Linked DNA regions of Homo sapiens: region 1 is linked to region 2. The links come from fine-mapping of genetic effects on gene expression. A gene starts in region 2. The other region holds a variant in brackets. All regions are shown on one strand. Distances are between the middles of the regions. Region 1 overlaps ADGRL1 (adhesion G protein-coupled receptor L1). Region 2 holds the start of SAMD1 (sterile alpha motif domain containing 1).

Evidence for each region. PIP is the estimated chance that this variant, and not a neighbour inherited with it, causes the effect.
Region 1: its variant is the best candidate, but not a certain one, in a credible set for the expression of SAMD1 in blood mononuclear cells (TOPMed, PIP 0.51).

Annotation. Positions count from the first base shown.
Region 1 is chr19:14,145,826-14,149,825 of GRCh38, forward strand. It overlaps ADGRL1 (adhesion G protein-coupled receptor L1), which reads right to left. Exons shown (of 23, transcript NM_014921.5): 23 at 1,918-4,000. The region is part of intron 1 of ADGRL1-AS1 (ADGRL1 antisense RNA 1); the gene reads left to right. Among named protein-coding and RNA genes, the nearest start is that of ADGRL1-AS1, 11 kb to the left of the region's middle. RefSeq lists an enhancer at 2,053-2,796. The variant T/C (reference allele first, on the strand shown) is at 1,638.
Region 2 is chr19:14,088,026-14,092,527 of GRCh38, forward strand. It overlaps SAMD1 (sterile alpha motif domain containing 1), which reads right to left and starts at 2,726. Exons shown (of 5, transcript NM_138352.3): 1 at 1,760-2,726; 2 at 1,043-1,337; 3 at 855-951; 4 at 646-757; 5 at 1-550. The coding sequence starts at 2,395. The coding sequence ends at 392. PRKACA (protein kinase cAMP-activated catalytic subunit alpha) reads right to left here. Exons shown (of 10, transcript NM_002730.4): 10 at 3,663-4,502. RefSeq lists an enhancer at 578-1,087 and silencers at 1,732-1,781, 2,082-2,341, 2,672-2,891, 3,032-3,081, 3,132-3,461.

The sequences.
Region 1 (4,000 bases), 58 kb after region 2:
ACAAACGAGCTATAATATTTAGGGGACTGTTGTAGTGGCTCTGGTGAAAGATGGGTGAGAACTAATTAATTCTGGATATTTAGAAGTTAGAGCCACCATTGCATTTACTGTCAAATTAGATGTGGGGTATCAAACAAGATGAGTTCAAGAGAAGCTCCAAGGTCTTTAGCTTGAATCAAGGTATGGATGGACTCACTTTTAGTTGAGGTGAGGAAGCCTCAAAGCCTCACGTGGGAAGAACTACAGTGGTGGCAGTGGTAGAGATGGGGGTGGGAGAGGCCAGGGTCTCAGTTTAGGACAGGTTAGTTTGAGATCCTACCAGATACCAGGCAGAGAGATGGGGTAGGTAGGTGAATATATGTAAATCTGGAGCTCAGGTAGGAGTTCAGGCTGGAGAGCTACGTTTGGGGGTGATCAGTGTATAGGTAGCGTTTCTTTCTCTCTCTCTCTCTCTTTCTCTTTCTTTCCTTTTCTTTCTTTTCTTTTTCTTCTTTCCTTCCTTTCTCTTTCTTTCTCCGTTTCTCTTTTCCTTTCTCTTCTCTTTCTTTTCTTTCTTCTGATGGAGTCTCAGTCGCCCAGGCTGGAGTGCAGTGGTGCGATCTCAGCTCACTGCAACCTCCGCCTCCTGGGTTCCAGCGATTCTCCTGCCTCAGCCTCCTGAGCAGCTGGGACTACAGGCGCTCGCCACCACACCCAGCTAATTTTTGTGTTTTTAGTAGAGACGGGATTTCACCTTGTTGGCCAGGCTGGTCTCGAACTCCTGACCTCGTGATCTGCCTGCCTCGGCCTCCCAAAGTGTTGGGATTACAGGCATGAGCCACTGCACCCACCCGGAGGCATTTCAAACCATGAGATGGGGTGAAACCTTCCAGGGAGTGAGAGAAAAGGTCTAAGGACTGAGCCCCTGGGTTCCCCATCATTAGGAGGTCAGATGAGAAGGAGCCAGCCATGAAGACTGGGAAGGAGTGGCTGTTGTGGGGAGGTGGGTGGTGTCCTAGACACAGGTATCTTTTTAAGGCAGAGGGGCCCGGAAAAGGATCCTTGTAGTTTGAGTAGTTATGCCTCTCTCTGAGCATGGGCAGTTCGTTGGTGAACTGACAACGTGAAATACACATGATGCAATTCCACCGTGTGTCAAGTTTGAAAGCACTCCCTGCCAGTAGCGTGTGGGAGTGTAGGAATGGCAATTGTAATGAGACATCACAGTGTAAAATTCCTGAGCTCTGCTCTAGTACAGCCTGGGGACAGACGTCTGGGCCAAGAAGGGCTTCTGTGAGACAGCATGGAACAGTGGCCTGGTCAGAGAGACTTGGGCATGCATCTGAGGGCTGTAAGCCTCAGTTTCCCCATCTGTAAAATGGAACTCTAATCGCTGTCTCCATCTGGGAGGATTTTGTGAGGATTCAGAGAAACTGCACATGAAATGCTCCACCAGGCCCAGGAACTTACCAAGGTCTCATAAACGTGAATGATTCTATAACTGTCAAGCCTCTGCCAGGGGTTCTGAATGCTCGAGTGCAGACCAGAGCCCATGGGGACGCCCCTGTGCAGATCTGCTCAACCATTTCTTTCTTTCTTTTTTGAGACAGAATTTCACTCTATAGCCCAGGCTGGAGTGCAGTGGTACGATCTTGGCT[T/C]ACTGCAACCTCTGCCTCCCAGCCGGGTTCAAGCAATTCTCCTGCCTTAGCCTCCCAAGTAGCTGGGACCACAGGTGCTTGCCACCACGCCCAGCTAATTTTGTCTTTTTAGTAGAGATGGGGTTTCACCATGTTGACTAGGCTAGTCTCAAACTCCTGGCCTCAAGTGATCCACCCACCTCGGCCTCCCAAAATGCTGGGATTACAGGCCTGAGCCACCGCGCCCAGCTATTCACCCATTTCTTACTCCCCCACTCAAGAAGTCACACCACTCTTGTCATTCCAAGAAATCTTAATTTCTTTATTGTTTGACTTTTTGACTCAACAATTTTTTTAAAACTTTTTGTTTTTTTCTGAAACGTTCTTGTTGTTATGAGCCTTTTGTTTTGTTCTCGTTAAATGCACTCGACCCAAAATTGGTTTGGCATATCGAAAAGGAGACCAAGGAGGGAGGGGCTGGGGCGTGGGAGGTGGGGAGGAGGCCCGAATGGACAGAAAGTTGAGGATAAGAGAAGAGGAACATAGAGACAGCCAGAAAGACATGGGGAAAGAGTGTTGGAGACAGAGAAAGGGGAAGGCAAGGGAAAGCCAAAAGAAACCAAAATCCAGAGAAAAAGAATTAACAAGATTTAGGAGCAAACGAGTTCAGGAGCCTAAGGAAGGGAGTAGGAGAGGAAACCAAGACCCTTCTCTGTACCGTCCCAGCTGGGGTGGGGGCGTCAAGGCACCAGGTCTGGTTAGGTTGGGGGGACACCTGGGCTCTGGGGGCGGCTTTGCACTGGACTGCAGTGATGTCCAGCCCCAGCAGGGGGCCCTGCCACACAGCTCTGAGGCCTGGAAGCCACCCGGCGATGCCGGCTGGAACAGGACCCGATACACCCTCTCTCCCTTTGATTGTCCGAGTCTGGAGAGATACAAGGAAGGCTGGGCAGGGAGGAAGTTGGCCTCTCTGTGTGCCTCAGCCCCCTGGAACTCTCCTGGCCCTCCTCCTGGTGTCGGGGGCAGCCACAGGCTGGGCTGCTTCCCGGGACAGGCCAGCTCCTCGCCTGCTCATGCCTCCTGCCCGCTCTTCACAGACCTCTGACCACCCCTCCACACAACAGAGCTCCCAGCCTAGTGCAGTCCGGGAAGGGCCATGGAACTGTCCCTTGCCCTCCTCAGAGTCGTCTGGCAAGACTGTCCCTGGCCTCACTTCTCCTCCCCATCTAGACTTCACCCATGGTCTTCTGGTGTAATGGGTTAGGCCTTTCTACCAGAAAAAGCCAGAGTTGGAACCCAACCCCACCTCTTCCCCACACCTGTTCCCTTACACGGGACAAACCACCATCTTTGGTCTGACCCCTTCTCCCCTAATTGATGGGGACAAGCCAGCCCCAGCTCCCCGGGAGAAGGGAGGGGCTTTCTAGCAGCAAAAAGGGTCCCTCCAGCCACCTACCTGTCCCCTTCCCCCCAGTTCCTTCCTAGAGCCCCTCCCCCTTAACCCAACAAAGTTCATGGCAGCAGCAGGCTGAGACCCGAAGATGTTTGAAAACTCATGGCACTTGTGAGAAAAGGAGGGGCAGAGAGATGGGGAGAGGTCAGAGCAGAGGTGGAGGGGCCACCTCTGGGGAAACGGCAATGCAGGGGCTGGGCTAGGGTGGCCTGGGGCTATGCTGCCCCTAGAGTTGAGGGAAGGGGGCTGGGGAGGCTGGCCTGACAGGCTGGAGAGGAGGGGGCCGGGACAGGTGCTCAGGACACATCCCGAGCCTGGAGCTTCCGGGGTCTGGGATTTGGGGTCAAGCCGCCCAGAACATGGGTGTCCCGACCCCAGCCCTGGCACCTGGCTTCGTCTTCCCTGCGGGAAGGTGGAGGATAGGGAAGGTGATCTCTCACCTTTGCCCCTCCCCATCCCCCAGACCGCCTTGCCGTTCCCAGCACCCTCCTCAGCCATACCCATGCCCTCCACAACCCCAGTGCCTCCCCATTTTCCTTCTGCCATCAACCTCTCTAGGTGGGAAATCAGCCCCATCTTCCCCGGCGAGAGTCCCCAGAGCAATATACAAGAAGCAGGAACTCAAAGGGACAGCGCAGCCATCTTGACAAAGCATCTTTGGGTGTGAAGAGGTCTCCCCCGGGCCGGTGGGGAGGGAAGGGGGAGACAGGCCTCTGGTCCTGGGGCAGGCAGTGAGAGGTACACGCCCCAGAAGGGCTGATGATGCCGGGCAGGCGGAGCAGGAAAGGAGGGTGCCAGGAAGGAAATGGGTTCTTTGTTTCGCTGTTGCATCTAGATTTTGTTTTCTGTCTCTGGATTGTAAAAAGCTGCTCTGGCGGCCCGCCCGCCCCGGCGGGGACTGGGGATGCACGTACACGGAGAAGTCCTGGCT
Region 2 (4,502 bases):
GCATGGGTGGTAGGGGAGGGAGGAAAGACCACCCACCAAAATAAACAGGCAGATCCAAACATTTATACAGGAAACATCTGGCTGAACGGAAGAGGATCTTGGGGAGATGAGAAGCCCCCCACATTTCATTTTTTTTTTCCTAAAATGTCCTGGACTGGGTGGGGAGGGTCAGCCACCTGGGGTTTAAGGAGCAATCCCCTCCCCACACCGACGTGCTGAGGAGCAGATGTGTGTGAGACAGACACAAGGGGCAAAGATAAGGACAAGAGGGTGCCCTCTCCTTGGAATCTGTTATGAGGGCTGAGGGTGTCCCCGTCCAGCTCCTGGACTCTGGGGGATCTTGGGTGAGATGGGGGCCGGAATGGGCTGGGGCAGGGGTGAGGCTGGGCGCTCAGCCTAAGAAGCCATCGGGGTCATCATCCTCAAAGTGGCCTTGCTGAAGCACCTTGATGTGGTGCTCGTAGATTTTCAGGGCTGGCCCGAGGCGGATGGACAGGCCGGTGAGCACATCTGTGCGCTGCATGAGCAGCAAAGATTTGCCATCAATTTCCTGGGTGGGACAGGAACAGAGAGAGCCGGGATCAGGGCACATCCCAGGGAGGCCCTCTGTGTCTGTCAGTGTGTAGTCCTGGGCTGGAAACTCACCTGCTCTTGGAAAGCTGTCGCCTGCTCCGGGAATCCAGCCTCAGTAAAATATTCGACGACATCCATCACGGTCCACTCGACGGGATCAGATGGCTTCTCTTTGCGCCCGGGACTGCATCAAAACAAACAGACACCAGTGAACACGGATGTCTCTCTGGCTGTACCACACACCTGAGCAGCACCCCCATGTCTCCAATACCCCAACTTACGGACAGCCAAAGGGGGTCCCGTCGGCCCCAGGTAGGGCTGGTTTGCCTGGGGGCAAAGGCACGGGGGACGGGGAGTCTGGCCCGGTGGCAACAGAAGCTGGGAAGGAAAAAAACACCTGTCTTTGGCTTTGTCTTCGGGCTGAGTTCCTCTCCACCTAGCACTCTTCCCCACCCAGAGGGATCCTTACCTGTTCCCCCTTCCTTGTTCATGGCTGCCATGGAGAACACCTGGCGGGTGCCGCTGCCCGGGGCTGGCCCCCGCCCTTCATCCTGGCCCTGGTGCGGTCCGCAGGGGGTCCACTCCTTGACCCTCTCCTTGGCACTCTGAGGTCCCCGCTCGCCGTTAAGCTGGTGGTGCTGGGCACCTGCAGGACGGTCACTCTCGGGCACTTCAGAGCCCTCTGACACATCATCTTCTTCATCTTCATCTTCATCATCATCTTCTTCCTCTTCTTTCTCAAGTACTCGCTCTTCTCCACCTCTCTGGAGCCGAGGAGAGAAGCATGCAAAATTAGTAGCTGTTCTAATCCCAGACCCTGACTGTGGCGTCCGGGCGGTGGGGAGGAGGAACCGATTCCACCTTTAAGAACAATACGGACTAACTTTTACGCATTCACTCCGTGCCAGGCTCTGTGTTAACTAAAGCCCTCGACAACCAAATCTTACTAAACTCGCTCAACAACCCCAAGGGGTCGCTACTGTTATTAAACCGCGTTTACAGCGGAGGAAACTGAGGCTCCGGGAGATTCAATCACTTGCCAAGGTCACCACGCACCGAGCCCGCAGGAAACGCGCGCAAAGCCCCAGCCACCCGCCACCCAGTTCCTCCCGGGACTCGCGCCCCCGCCACCAACTTCGCCCGCACCTGCCCACCGCGCGGCGCCCCCGCTCCCCGGCGCGCTCACCTTGCTGCGAGACGGGCGGGCGCTGGCGGCCGGCGGCGCCCGTCCGGGCCTGTCCCCGCGGGGCAGCGCAAGCGCTCCGAGACGGGTGCGCTCCAGACGGCCTCGAGCCGCCGCCTCCTCCTCCAGCAGCCCCTGCACGCGGCCGCGGGTTAGGCGACCGCCGGCGCCGCCGCTGCCCCCGAGGTAGCGCACGACTTCCCGCAGGCTCACGGGCCGCGCCGCGCCGCCGGCCCGCACCGCGCCCCCCTCCGGCGGCGGCTGTGGCTGCGGCGGCGGCGGCTGCTGCTGCTGTGGCGGCGCCGGCGGGGCCGGCGGGGTGGCTCCGCGCCGGGGCGGCTGGACGCGCGCCGCGTTGCGGTACGAGATGCTCCCCTTGTAGCTGACCCGGAGCACGGCGCGCTGCTGGATCAGTTTCTCGAGCTCGGCGCGCGTGCGCTCCGGCTCCGGGCCGTGCCGCCGCCGCACCATCCGGCAGATGCGCTCCAGGTCCGGCCGCGCCTTGCGCGAGCGCAGCGAGTCGATGGTGTCCAGGATCCACTCTTGGTAGTGCGGGGAAGCGGCGGACGACGAGGCGGCGGCCGCCGTGGTGGCGGCCGCCGCCGTCTCCGGCGGGGGTAGGGCCGGGGGCCCCGCCATGCCTCCCGCCCGGCCCGGCTGCACCGTGCGCGCTGCCTCCCTCCCAGCGCGGCGCCCCCCTCCCCGGCTCCCCTCCCTCCGCCGCTGCCCGCCTCCTCCGCCTCCCCCCCCGGGGGGCGCAGCGCCTCGGCGGAGCGGCGGCGGCGCTGCTGTTTCTTTGCAAAAAAAAAAAAAAAAAAAAGAGAGAGAGAGGGAGAGAGAGAGAGAGGAAAAAACAGTGAGAGAGAAAGAAAAGAGAGAAAAAAATATGCACACACTCACTCACTCGCACGCACGCACACACAGACCCGCTTCTGCTGGGCGCGCGCGGGGCCGGGGATGCGAGGGGGAGGAGGGGAGCGCGGCGCGGCCGGCCCCTCCCCGCCGCCGCCGCCGCCGCACGCGCGCCCTGCGCCCGGGACACTCCGGCCCCCCTTCCTTCCCTCCCTCCCTCCTCCCCGCCGCCCGCCTTCCTCCCTCCCACCCCCACGCGCCCGCTTTTAAGGTGGAGCCCGGGCCCCCCGCCCGCCCCCTTTACCCTGCGCTCTCGCTCACTCCGGCTCGCTCCGGCCCCCCCTTACAACTCCCGCGCGCTTTTTAAGGAGGCGCCGCGGAGTTGGCCCGGGGCGGGGGCGGGGGAAAGCGGCGGGCGGGGGAGGGGGAGGGGAGTGCCGGGGGGAGTGGAGAGGGGGCGGGCAGGGCGGGCGGGCGGCGCTCGGCCGCCCTCCAGCCATTGGGCGCGGGACCCAGACGTCCCCGGCGCCCAGCCCCCCTCTCCACGCCTCTCCAGCGCGCTCCGCTCTCGGGACCGCACTTACCGGGAACTCGCCGCCCGCGGGCCGGGGCTGCCGCGCTCGCAGGGTGCTGCGGGGACCCTCCTGCTGCCGCCGCCCCCGCGTCCCTCAGGCGCGCCTGGCCCGGCGCTGAGGATGCGGGAAGGGGGGCGCGCACCCTCTCCCCCTTCTACTCCCCCTGCCAGGGCCGCCCCCGCCGCCGCTCGGCCTCCTGGCGCGCCAGCCCCAGCGCCTCCCTAGAGCGCCCTCTCGGTCCCGGGCTGGACGCCGAGGGGGCGCGCCGCAGATTTGGGGACCCCGAATCTGGGGTCAAAGGGCAGTTTGACGCTCGTTTCTCCTGCGGGGCCGAAGGAGTGCCGGAATTTCAGCTAAACCCTGGTTACAAGGACTTCAAGCCAGGACCTGATCGGCCTGCACGCTGGGGTCCGAAATTCCCTTTCCAACCCCCTGGGGGTGTGTGGGTGGGTGATCGAAGTCGAGAACACCAGCGACACTTTTTTTTTAAACAAAACTTTATTGGTAATAGTTTTCAAATATGTTTACAACAGCACACTGTTCAAGAGGAAGTCTCGTCCTTCGCAGCACACAGGTTGAATCGCCCCCGCACCCACCCGGGGCCCCACCCCAGGCCTGAGAACTCCTCCTGGGATGGGGAGAAGTTATGAGAGGGGGAAATACGGGGATGAATGGGGTGGCTCCCCAGCGGCTCCCCACTTTTCTATTACGAGAGAAAAAAGCACAAATGAGAAAGTGGGGGAGAGGTGATGGACAGCTGACAGCTAAGCTGGAGGAGGGGCGCCCAGGATGGGGGAGGCGGAAGCTGGTGGGTGAGTAAAACAGGCAGCCCCTCCCCAGCAGCTCTAGCCTTGAACCCCGGGCCGTGGCTTGGGGGGACTTGGCCTCTTCTGTTCCCTTTTGCAGGGATGCCCTCCCCACTCAGCTGAGGGAAGGCTGGACGTTAAAATCTAGCGGAGAATAAAATTAAGGAGTTGGGGGGAAACGCTGCTGGGAGGAAAGACTTGGGCTTGGGGCTCCCCCTCTGTCTTTTTGGGGGATGACTCCTCTTTGGCAGGGAGAGGGGCAGCTGCTTTGTCTGGCTTTCAAAGCCCAAGGGTGAAGACAGGTCTGTTGGGGAAAAAGAGAGCGGAGGCTTCCTAAAGGGGCCTAGACCCTCGCAGGATTGGCAGAGAGGATTCCCCGGGGAGGGGCCCAGGGGAGATTAGCAGCGGGGAGGTTCAAACCCCAGCGCCTCCCTTTCCAAAGTCAGTCTGCTTCTCTTTAAAATGGATTTGAGGAATGGGGGGACATGGGAGGGGTGGGAGTAGAGGAAGGAG